Homo sapiens: one gene and its partner. The protein of the gene in region 1 interacts with the protein of each later gene in a pairwise test. Each region holds a gene or a part of one and is shown on either strand. Other genes may lie near its edges. The genes, in order: PPP2R3A and NKD1.

Region 1 (4,961 bases):
TGGTGAAACCCTGTCTCTACTGAAAATACAAAAATTACCCGGGCATGGTGGCACATGCCTGTAAATCCCAGCTACTCGGGAGGCTGAGGCAGGAGAATCACTTGAACTTGGGAGGCAGAGGTTGCAATGAGCCAAGATGGCCCCACTGTACTCCAGCCTGGGCGACACAGCGAGACTCCATCTCAAAAGAAAAAACACACACAATGTTTTAGGAACTTGAATAGGTGCCACTTACTGTATATACCTACCTCAGCATATTTTCCCTCACTAATTGGCCCCAATTGGTACCTTTTTGATGAAGGGACTGTATGTCCACAAATTCCTGCTTAAATATTGTGGGAGATCCCTGCAAGGGCTAAGCCAGTGATGTCAAATACTATAATAGACATTGCTGATGTACATTTTTCTGATGTACATATCTACATATGAGGCTCAGAGATATAGCCTCAGAATATTTATCAATATTTCAGGCAGCCACATCATTTCCAAGAGAAAATATTTCATCTCTGCCTAAAGCCAACCTTAGGGGTAGCCTGGAGGATACAGAATTCAGGGGATACCAGCAACACCTAAAAGGTTTAGCAGAAGGACATCTTCCCAGGATGAGTATCCAGGTCCAGGTATGCTATAGAGACCTAAAAAGTAGAATGATGGGAAATCCATAAATGCACTTTAGTCAGTTCAACCTACATACTTGAACATCTTTTTGTGTTGCTTGGAAGCCACGGAGGGAAGCTATAAAGCAATCTGAGAGTTGAGAAAGTTTGCCACTCTGGCCGACCAGTGGCTCAAGCCTGTAATCCCAGCACTTTGAGAGGCCAAAGTGGGCAGATCACCTGAGGTCAGGAGTTCCAGACCAGCCTGGCCAACATGGTGAAACCCCATCTCTACTAAAAATACAAAACTTAGCCAGGTGTGGTGGCGCATGCATGTAGTCCCAGCTACTGAGGAGGCTGAGGCAGGAGAATCGCCTGAACCTGGGAGGCAGAGGTTGCAGTGAGCCAAGATCGTGCCACTTCACTCCAGACTGGGTGACAGAGCAAGGCTCCGTCTCAAAAAAAAAAAAGGTTTGCCACTCTGAGTGGAAACCACTTTTAATAAGGTCAAGTAATGCTCATACTTCATGGACCTCAAATTTTTCTTTACCTAGCACCATCTGTAATTCTCTCACTCCCACCAACCACCCTAGGGAAAGCTTGATACGGAACATTTTCAACAAATTCTGACATGGACTTAAGCTTTAAGGAACAGGGAGAAGAATGTGTTTTCTGCTCTAGAGTGTTGCCTCCTTCACGGCAGTTGAGTTGCTCACGGCCTCCATTTAGCAATTCAAGGTACCTTTGTGGGCTGGTCTTGAGGCTCGGATTTGCCATATTGATTTCTACCCAAACTTTAATCAATCAATCAGTTAATTCACTTTTGCTTTGTTATTTCAGCTTTGAAGATTATGAAACAGATGAACCTGCCTCTCCCTCTGAATTTGGAAACAAAAGCAATAAAATATTAAGTGCAAGCCTTCCAGAGAAATGTGGAAAGCTTCAATCAGTGGATGAAGAATAGCTGCCGGTGTCTACAATGAAACGAAGATGTGTATTTTAAATGTTTCTTTCTTGTGAAGAGATGTTCTCGTTTGCATACTGCTTTTTAAAGACTTTGATTTCTCCAAGTGTGTATCATCTGCACTAGGAACTTTGTTTTTAAGCAATAGGTCTGGATACACATTTAACTTAGGAGGCTCCTCCAATTTGCCTCAAACCTCTTACGGAGCTTCTCCTCAGAAGTGGTACCATCGCCTTCCAAAGTCAGCACTCTACACTCTTGAATGTACCAAGGATCTCTTGGCGACAGTACCAAGCACGGTTCTCTACACAGGTGACTGAAGTTGCCTCTGTGTTGGCTGGCATCCCTGAGTCCCCTCCGGGCTCCTATGGAGCCTAGAAGAAACCTTCACTTGCAGAAAACTTGAGTCAGAAAATTCTGGAACTTGAAAAAGTAGTAAGGGCCTCCAGAATTGACTTAGCCCTAGTAATAAAAGCACTGCCAAAACATCTCAGAGACTTCTTTTATGTATACTGGAGTTCAAAGATCTTTAACTTACCTGGCTTAATGTAATTTCACAGTTACCTGCCAAACTACTAGTCACTTTACATCCTCAGGTATTGTAACCACTGGGCCTTCCAACTTTGCTGGCAAGCTCTGGTAACCTCCCTGACTGTGGATCTTATATAAAATCTCAAGATAAAAAAACACTTCTTAAATGAAGTATAGAATTTGACTCATACTTGGAAAAAGCCCTTTTAACTTTTATCTTTTATTCATTGAACTATTGAATGATGTATTTAATATCCAAATTAGTTGATAACTGTTTTCACTTCCTATCAGAAGGCCTGCTTGAAGACATAAAGGAATAATGATACATTAAAATTCTTACTAGATAGATATATTCCTTCCTCCCAGGAGTATTAGACTAGCTAATAGTAAAGGCCTCAACGTTATTCTTTACTTCATGTTGAAAACAATTACTACAGATATTTCATCCACCTCAGTATTTATCAAGGAAATGGAAAATGATACAGCTATAAAAGAAAGCTGTTATTTACTGTAGTTGTAGATGTATTCACTACAGAATCCTACATTTTTCAGCAGGCCACAGTCCAGCCAAATCCTATAATATCCTTGAAAAGAAACTATTAAAAAGGATAGACATTTCTGATGTAAGTAAAACCCCCAAGCAACTTAATATCCATCTGTCAGTCATCAACTTTTCCCCTAGATTTTTTTTTTAACTAGTTCTGAAAGTGTCAAGAATAGCTTCCCTTTCCACCCTACCTAGGTTCCCTCCTTGCTGGCATAAAGGCCAAGCAGTGAAATGAACCTTGGGTTAGAGTTATGGTAGGCAAAAAGAAAAGGAGAATTTAGGAAATAAATATGCTATAAACAAGGTACAGTACAGTGAGAGTTAACAATCCTAGGAATCCTGCCTGTCACAAGCTCCCAGTTCCCTGTCATTTTATCTTCATGATTAGAACTGATCTTCCATTTAACTATTACAGAAAGCAGTAACTATTGCAACTATCTAATAGTTCACACAAAAGAATTAAAAGCTTAAAAATAATTTTTAGGAAACACAATATTCAAAATCTAAACACACTGATAAATTATTAAGATTAAGATTATTTATGTGATAAATGAAATCTCCTACCAATCCATCCAGCCTTTACCAGGGAAGAAAAGCAATTATTTCATTTCAGATAGAAATACAAAAAAAAAAAAAATACTTTTCTTAGAAGCCAGATATGGTTTAAATGTTTTATTATCCATAATGATCTAAACTAATAAGATTCACCAAAAAGTAAAAATTCAATTTTACAATATACATTTTTTTTTTTAACTATTTGGCTTTACCTTTTTACCTTGGTTCTCCTTACTGAAGTCCTCTTGCTTTCACTTTGATCTGGTTTTTGAAGTCTCTTAATTATTGGCTGGGCATGGTGACTCATGCCTGTAATCCCGGCACTTTGGGAGGCCAAGGGAGGTGATCACTTGAGCCCAGGAGTAAAGACCAGCCTGGGCAACATAGTGAGACTCCGTCTCTACAAAAAATAAATTTAGCTGGGCATGGTGGTGCACATCTGTAGTCCTACCAACTTGGGAGGCTGAGGCAGGAGAATCGCTTGAGCCCCAGGCTTCGAGGCTGCAGTGAGCTATGATTACGACACTGCACTCCAGCCTAGGCGACAGAGCAAGACCCCATTCTCTTACAAAGTCTCTATTATAAAAGTACATCCATCAATACCATTCCATTTAAAATGGGCTATTGTAATTTACCCACATTATCACATTTTCAGGAATTATAAGAATGTGTTTTATTGTACTCCTTCCTTGGAGCTGAATGCAAGGAATGTGAATTCTGAGGAATTAAGGTAGAATATATTTGACTTTCTGGTAAAGATCATGGTTAAGTATAATCATTACTGCCAAACTGGAATTTTCAAGTTATTATAATATCCCAGGCCCCTTGATAAAAGCTGAGGGTTATCATGACCTTAATGCTAATTCAATGAGAAATGAGTTTAATAGCATAACATTACCAAGGTAATCAAACTAATAAAATTCCATATATCTTCCCTGCATCTTGTCACTGTGTACCATTCAAAGTGTTTATAAAACTCTAGATTCATCAAATGAGATTTGCTCAGCTTTTTGAAATGTTAAGATGTGTTTGGAGAAGGCTGCATGACTTTGTTTTTCCCTTTTAGCAAAACTAAATAAAGTTGTCAAATATGAATCATGTTCATTAAGGTAATTACTACACACTTGTGCTTTTAATCATATTTGCACCTCATTTTTTTGTCTGCAAGAGTAACACTGTAAACAAGCTTGAATGTCAGAGAATAACTCTTTGAGCCCATGTGAAAACTACAAAGAAAGGTCTTTGTAGTAATGACAATATACTGAGAAATGATTTCTTCAGGGGATAGGGAAGAGGACCAGGGTTTGTGAATGAGGCGGAGTTCACAGGAATCAAGGTAGACTTTAGCCTCATCTATAATGCATTATTTTAAAAGAATGTGTAACGGCATGTTTTGGGGTACCTAAATTTTATTTCAGAGGCAAGGTCTATGTTGCCCAGGCTGAGTTCGAACTCCTGAGCTTAAGTGATCCTCCCACCTCAGCCTCCTAAGTAGCTGAGATTACAGGCACACACCACTGTGCCTAGCTTTTAATTTTTTTAAAAAGAGAAAAGTATAAAATACCATACTTTGAACTTAGTATTTTCTAAAGCATTTCTGTTTTTTATCTATGATATGGTTATGGACAATTTATTTTTCATCTGATTCCCATAAAACTTTTACTCTTCTTCAACAAGGTCACCAATAAATTGTTTTAACTAAGAATACAATGAAATAAAAGGAATTCTTTATCCCTAGGACCATACTACACCTCCTCCCGGAAATGCA
Region 2 (7,294 bases), on another chromosome or scaffold:
GCTCTCTTGGAGGGGGAAGCAAAAAGACTGCTGATCAGGCAGGGGACGGGAACTCCCCGAGTGGCCACATGGGCAGTCTCAGTAGGAGTCTCAGGCCAGGCTCTGTCTGTGGATTCCCACTTCTCTGGGCTGCATCTCACTGTTCAGGCTAGAGTCTGGTCCTTGCCCATCTGCAGGTCCAGGAAGATGTGGCCCCAAATTCTCTGGACCTGATGTCCTAGATCCTGTGCACTTGGCTTCATGGATAGAGTCTGAGAAGGTTGCAGGATCCAGTAGCTGGACCACAGAATGCAGCCTGGGGGTTTGGCTAAGATGAGCAGACTGGCCCATGGTTGAGACTTTGGACCTGAGCTGAGTCCTGGTTCTACTACTTCCTAGATGTGTGACCTGGGACAAGTGACTCACCTCTGTGCCTTGGTGTTTTTCTCTAACATGGGGCTAATTGGGGTAACTACCTTACTGAGCTGTTATGAGTAAATGATCCAGTGGGCGTGAAGCGTTCAGCGCAGAGCCTGGCACGTAATAGGCCCTCGATAAGTAAAACAGCAACAGTAGCTGCAGTTAGGAGAATGTGACCCCAGAAGGCTCATGGGAAAGGAGGTGCAGTCCTGATGGATGAAGGGTACCTGTCCTCCACCCCGGCTGCAGAGCCCCCAGTGAGACAGCTGCTGTGGCATGCTGCCTCTGCTACACACTCAAAAAACACTTGAGGACATGACTTTTCCCTCTCAAGTTTGATGGGATCACTCTGTTCCTTCCAGACCCGACTTGTGGTGTGAACTTGGACAAGCCCCTGCTGTCTCTGGCCTTCAGTACCATATTTGTATTATGAAACTGCCCTTGGCTTGAAGCTAGACTATGGGGGTGGCAGCTCTAAGTCCTACAAACAGTAGGGGTAGTGGTGGGGATGGGCAGCCTGAAAGCCATGCCAGCAGTGCCTTCCTTGGGGAAAGAGGTGGCCTCTGGAGCAATGCTTCGCTACCCTACATCTGGGTCTGTCCTTGCCCAACTCCTAAGCTGCAGGATCGCTGAGGAGTCCACATTGCCATATCTGCCACTTACAGAGTGCCTACTGTGCACCCAGCCCACATTCACTAGTGTCCTCAAAACAGCCTTGAGAGGAAACCAACGAGGAAACAGAGTTACAGTTCAGTTAAGCAACTTACCTAACTTGTGGCTAATGCATGGTAGGATTAAACATAAGCCTGACATATGCTAGCCACATGACCCTCCCTTTCCAGGAGCCTGCTGGCATTGATACAGGTTGACAAAGACCAGTCCTACTCCGTTGTCTGCCATTACTCCAGCCAAGTCCAGGGACACGTGAGGCAAGGGGAGCTGGGGCTGCTGGTGTGGCCGAGACCTCAGCCTCAGCAAGATGGTGCCCCAAGCTCTCAGGGTGCCCTGTGGTCCCCTTCATTCATAACATTGATCATGTTTGTAACTGTAGTTGATTCTCACTCATCGCAGTAGTTACATCTTATAAAGTCACCTCTGACACTGAGTTAGCGCATACTGAACTACTGATCCTAGGGGAAATACAGGGTTAGGTTCCTGCCAGCTTCTGGTCACAACATTTTCATTACCAATCAGTGCATAACCTTGTTTTATGTGTGCTTCTGTTTAAAGATGCCTAATTTACTATATATTCTTGATTCGTTAACATTGAACTCAGCCAACAGCTCTATAACTCATGACTGAATGAAGCTTATCTAGCACACATATTTTCTCTGCAAGGCATATCAGAGCCTTCTGTGCTTAAGAGCACAAGATGGCACTTCAGCGTCATGCCTGGGGAGCATTTTAAGCAGCCAAATCACCAACACAAAGCACAAACATGCACAAAGCATGATGCTAAACAGACTGTGAGAAGGATGTTTGTGTATAGGATGAGAACTGAACCACGAAAGCAGAGCATCATCTTGTTCGACCTCAGTTGAGAACATGTTGTCGGGCCACTCAGACTTTTCACTGCTCTGCGCATATCACGAATGAAGTGAATGCACCATGAGTATTGATTTTGGGTGATAGACAAATTTTAGTGAATAGGCAATTTCGTAAATACAGAATCCACGGAGGGTGAGGATCCACCGTATGTACTTATCTATGCCTCTAATTATTTGGTTTCCACCAAAGCACTTGTTCACCAGATTATCTTATAATCCCAAAGGCCCAGCAAAGACAGGTGCTTGTTCAATGTCTGTTGAGCGACTGAAGGACAACACATTCCTGGCCTCCCCACCCGCCCCCAGCGGGACCTAGCACATGGCCTGCTGTTGACACTCCATGTGTCTTTGTTGATAGAATTCATAAAGACAGATGGGAAAAGGGGCACCCCTCTTGCGGGTTCCTGATGCTGAGAGTTGTTGGAATGTTGATGCTGCCCCCAGAGAAGGGTGACAGCATGCAGACAGACTGGAAACCCAGAACCTCCTGGGGATATTCAGATGGTGTCACTGGGCTCGGCCTGTGGGCTCTCAGCACATCTAGGTACTGGGGCCCAGGGTGACTCTGAGTGGCTCAAGTCCCCTGGCCAGATCCTCTCCAGATGGGCCCCTGGCCATCTTAGCCAACATCACCTGATTCTGTTTCCTCTGACTCTGTCCTCAAAAGGCAGCATCTGATTGTGATTTGGTCCAGAAATTCCTGGCCAGAATATTTCCAGTGTGGTGCATGTGAACTTCCCGCCTTCCCTTCCTTCCCTCCTCCCTCCTTTCTTCACTGGGGAGAAAGAATTTGGCATTCGAGTATCTCACCCCGTCTTGCTAAGCAGTTTAGTTAGACTGCAGGCCAGTCTCTGTGGTGTGACCACCCCCCAGTGGCAAGGAGCTGCCAAAACTGAGCTTCTGGGCAAGACGTGGGCAGAGCAAAGAGAGACCCACACTTGGCACTTCCTGCCCAGAAAGGACCTGCTCAGGCCTGGCTGGCCTTTACCACCGTCATCTCCAGGCTTTCTGTTCATCCGTACTTTCAAAGATTTAGTGATCAAGTACTATGTGTCAGGAACCATGCTCAGCACTCGATAAAACAGACATCATCTCTACCTACCTTTGTGGAGCTTTAATCTAGTGTGGGGGACGGGGGGACTGCTTCCACCCAGAAACGACATTTTTATCCACTGCGATAACTTCTGGGGAGACATGGGAGGGAATAACAGAGGGGACATGATGGAGATGGGGGACTGCAGAGGGACTCTCCAGGAAGCCACATTTAGGGGGTGACCTCAAGGGTGAGGAAGAATTAGCCAGGTGGAAAGTTAGAGGGAGCAGCTGGTACAAGGGCCTCAAGGGTGGATGGAGGGTGAACGCTTGATGAACTGGTGCAGGCCTGTATGGCCGGGTACAGCTGGCAACGAGGAGGCCCGGTATGGGCAGAATCTGGGGGCCTGAATGGTGGAGAGTCTGCTTGTCACCCCAAGAGACACATCAGGAAGCTAGGTGGTCAGTCGGGAGAGAGAGGATGTGACACTCTAGCCACCACCACGCAGAGAAGGGATTGGAAACAGTAGCCCGGAGAGGAGGCTCTCTTGGTAGGATCCCACGGCAACCGAATGGATGCACGTTGTTTATGACGTTCTTACCCATGAAAGCGCTCAAGGATCCGCTTGCTTGCTTACATGTGGGATCAGCACTACCTTCCGTGCTGCCGAACATCTTCTTAAGCGAGGGAAAGAACAAAAAGAAAAGTTGGCAAGAAAGAAAGGGCAAAGACAGAGAGACTGGGAGAGAAAGAGGCCCCAATTTCCTCTCTCTGGTAGTTGCTGAATTGGCTCTCGTGAAGGCAGAAAGGGAAGGGCTGACTTATGTCCCTCTGCCAGGAGAGGGGAAAGGAGGGAGGCATGATATTGACTTAAACGTGGGGGATTTAAAAGGCCCCTATGTTCCCACTTTGTGCTTTGCTTCTAACAGACAGCCTGGGACCTTTGAAGTCGGTCTGGCCCAGTGGGGAGCGGGCTTCTGTGGAGACAAGATGCTAACGGGGGCGGGGGAAGGGGGCCAGGGGGCGGCCGAAACTCTATTAGGCATGCTCTAGCAAAAAGAAAGGCAAATCCAATGATAATGTACATCTGTTTCAGGGAATTTATAAGCTTTGAACATTTTTTATGGGCAGATAAGTGGGTCCTTTTCTTACCATAACTTAGAACTTCAAAGCTGAGTGTGTGGATAATGCAAATTGCTGAAATATGAGATTTTCCCTACAAAGAGGTTTCCAAAAAAGACGAGGAAGAAAAAGAGGGGGGGGGGAGAGAGAACGAAGGCTAACTGATGCCACAGTCTTTTATGTACATGGCAAAAACGGGACAGAAATTGATTTTTATGAAAGAAGAAATTGATGGGAGACATGGCGTGGGGAGGAGGCGGCCTTGTGGCAGGTGCTGGGAGGCAGGGACTGGGGCCGGGCGGGTCCACCCAGGCTGTGGGTCAGCCCTGCAGGGTTGAGCTGCCTGGCTGTGGCTCAGGCCCTGGGGACACAGTGCCCTCCCTCTAGGAGCCTTAATGGGGAAAACAAGAACACTGTCACTCGTAATGGGCATGAAAGGACACTTCAGAGCCAGCCAAGGCAGTGTCAGCCCAGAACAACACCCTGGAACACCCAAGGGGGCTCCAAGGCAGGATGGGACCCCCTGGTTTGGGAAAATCAGAAAAGGCCTCCTGGAGGAGAGGGGCTCTAGGGGGCAGGTATGATCCTGAAGGGAAGACAGTGGGGTGGGACATTTCAGATGGCAAAACAGCTGGGTCAGGATATCCCCAGGGTCATGCCTCTGCCACCCAGACCCCACCACATTCAGCCCTCTGTGCTTTTCTTGTCTCCCACATCCCCAGCCCCAGTAACTAGCAGGGACACAGTCAACATTCAATATGTGCATGTTGAATGAATGAATGAATGAATGTGAGATCGTGAGAACACACAGCTGGTTGGCAAGCAGCATCAACCAGCTCTTTCTTTTCACTATATTACATATCTACAGTGGTAGAGTCATACTAGAAGACATGATGGGATGGTGGTGTGGTCTCTGTAGTTGACCCCATCATCCTTTCTGTCCATAGGTGATTCGTCTAAGCCAGACATGGCAAAGTCCTCACCTTTGCCAGTGACTGATTCAGGAAAGATCATGTGTGACCTTATTCTGGGCAATGAGATCTGAAGGGAAGTCTGTTGAGGAACTTGTAACATGTCATGGTAGTGGCCATCTTGCTACAGCCTGAGGACCACAGAGCACACACAGAGAGTGCTGGGTCCTTGGGAATGATGTTGAGCAAGCACTTATACATGACCTGGCAGCCACCCAGCATCTGTACTTTAGTTATTTGGTTTTTCTCAGGAGGAGATCCTGAGATGAAGACTCAGGAGCAGGTTGTTGATTTTGAGGTGGTCCTGGGAAAGACAGGGAGGAGAGTGGGGAAGTGAGGCAGAAAAGGAAGGGAAGTTCCACTCCAGGAGCCCACGTGGAACATACCTCAGAGTTATCCCACCTGCACAGGGAGGGAGCTGAGGTATTTACCCACCCATCCTTGTCAGTCATTGGTCAAGGGCTATTTCTGTGCATAGGCATAGGCTTCAGCAGAATTGCAGGTACTGGCAGTCGGAAATTGGACCAGCAAACAGAAATGATTCCTACAGGGGATACAAGCCAGGCACAGGCAGTGTCTGTTACTTGGGGTTCCTGTTGCTTAGAGTTGAAAGCATCATAACCCATCCCAGGTGATCATAGAAGGACCTCAAAGGAAAAGGTGAGGGGTTTGGACATTTCCTGAGAATCCATGGGGGAACCATTCAGGGTTTGGGGCAGGTGTCAACCACAAGAACATTAAACAGGCTCTTTTGGCAGCAAAGTTGGGAGTGGTGTTGAAGTAACTGGGAAAACTCCACAGAGGCTCAGCGTCCACCTCTACCTGACACCCTGCCAGCAACCTGGGTGATTTCCGCAGGTGTCTGAACCCCGATCTCTCAGTGTTATGGCCCCCACCACCAGGAAGGCCTCCTTTTCTCTCTTCTATAGCCACTCACTCCTGGGCCCCACTGTGAACCCAGAAATGCCACACCATGGAAGCCACACACTCTGCTGTCTCCTTCTGTCCTCATTCCTGTCCTTCTCACAGTCAGTCCCTCTTGGCTCTTCCTAGAGTCCCTTTCATTCCCTCATTTCCACTTCCTGCCGCTGTACTGTCACCTGTGGCCTGGATTTGCACTCTTGGTCCAACACCCTCAACTCCAACACCTCTGTCTTTCTGCCCCATCCACTAGACAAAAGCTGACTCTGGAAAACATTAGGCACTCAGAATCAAGGGTTCTGGGGTCAGATGGATAATTGCCATCATCCTCACCAAGTTGCCACTGGACTTTCTTGCCCCTAAATCCACTGGGCATTTCATTGCTACCTTTCTTGACTTCTTGATTGTTTTTGTGATACTGACACATCCCCCCTTTCAGAACACCCTCTGCCCTTGGATTCTGTGCACAGGAAGCTAGTTGCTCCCCTGAATACACTCTTTCTTCCTTGTAATACAGCCTCTGATTTTGAGCCCAAGAATAAAGACTACAGTTCTCAGACTCCTTCGCAAATAAATTTTGTGACTAAACTCTAGTCAACAGTAAGTGTCATGTAGCAGCTCCTGGGAATCTCCTTTAAAAAGAGAGCTTGTTTATACCTATTGTCATCTCTGTTCTTCTGTGCCCCTTCTTCCATTTTGCTGCCTGGAAAGCAGATGTGATGGCTGGAATTCCAGTCACCATTTTGGACCATGAGGACAACACCCTAGAGATGTGGAGTGGCTAAAAGAAGCCTGTGTTCCTGAGAACTTAGAGGACCAGGACCTCTATTCCAGGCTTGGACACCTACATTTAGACTATTATATGAGGAAGCAATCAACTTCTCACTTGTTTCAACCACTTTCACTTGCAGTCAAACCTGAATTGTAAGTGAAATTGCTTTCCTGATAGCAAACCTGTTGGATTTTCTCCAGAATCCCTGGGCCACTTTTAGCAGTCAGATTCGTCTAATCCTCCTTTAAAGATGGTGGCAGTGAAACTGGTACATGGGACCTGACTGGGCTTTGTTTGCAACTTTCTGATAATTTATAATTATTTCAAAATAAAAAAATTTTAAAAATAGTGGCGTTGCTCAGATCTCAGTGCTGGCTGCCTGGCCTTCTCCGTGGACTCACTTCTTGGGATCTCGTCCACTGCCATGACTGTCTCTAGGTTGCTGCCAACGAGTCCCAACTACATGCCTCAAAACAAACTCATCATCTTACCCCAAAACCTGCTCCTAGCTCAGCAGATGGCAAGACAA

Evidence for each region.
Region 2: the proteins of PPP2R3A (region 1) and NKD1 interact in binary tests that used the Homo sapiens proteins (3 or more experiments, as listed by UniProt).

The regions. Positions count from the first base shown.
Region 1 is NC_000003.12:136,143,607-136,148,567, forward strand, and holds the end of PPP2R3A (serine/threonine-protein phosphatase 2A regulatory subunit B'' subunit alpha), read left to right. Parts: intron 1-1,436; coding exon 1,437-1,560; 3' UTR 1,561-4,288; downstream 4,289-4,961. UniProt on the Homo sapiens protein: The B regulatory subunit might modulate substrate selectivity and catalytic activity, and might also direct the localization of the catalytic enzyme to a particular subcellular compartment.
Region 2 is NC_000016.10:50,642,137-50,649,430, forward strand, and holds the end of NKD1 (protein naked cuticle homolog 1), read left to right. Parts: 3' UTR 1-7,113; downstream 7,114-7,294. UniProt on the Homo sapiens protein: Cell autonomous antagonist of the canonical Wnt signaling pathway. May activate a second Wnt signaling pathway that controls planar cell polarity.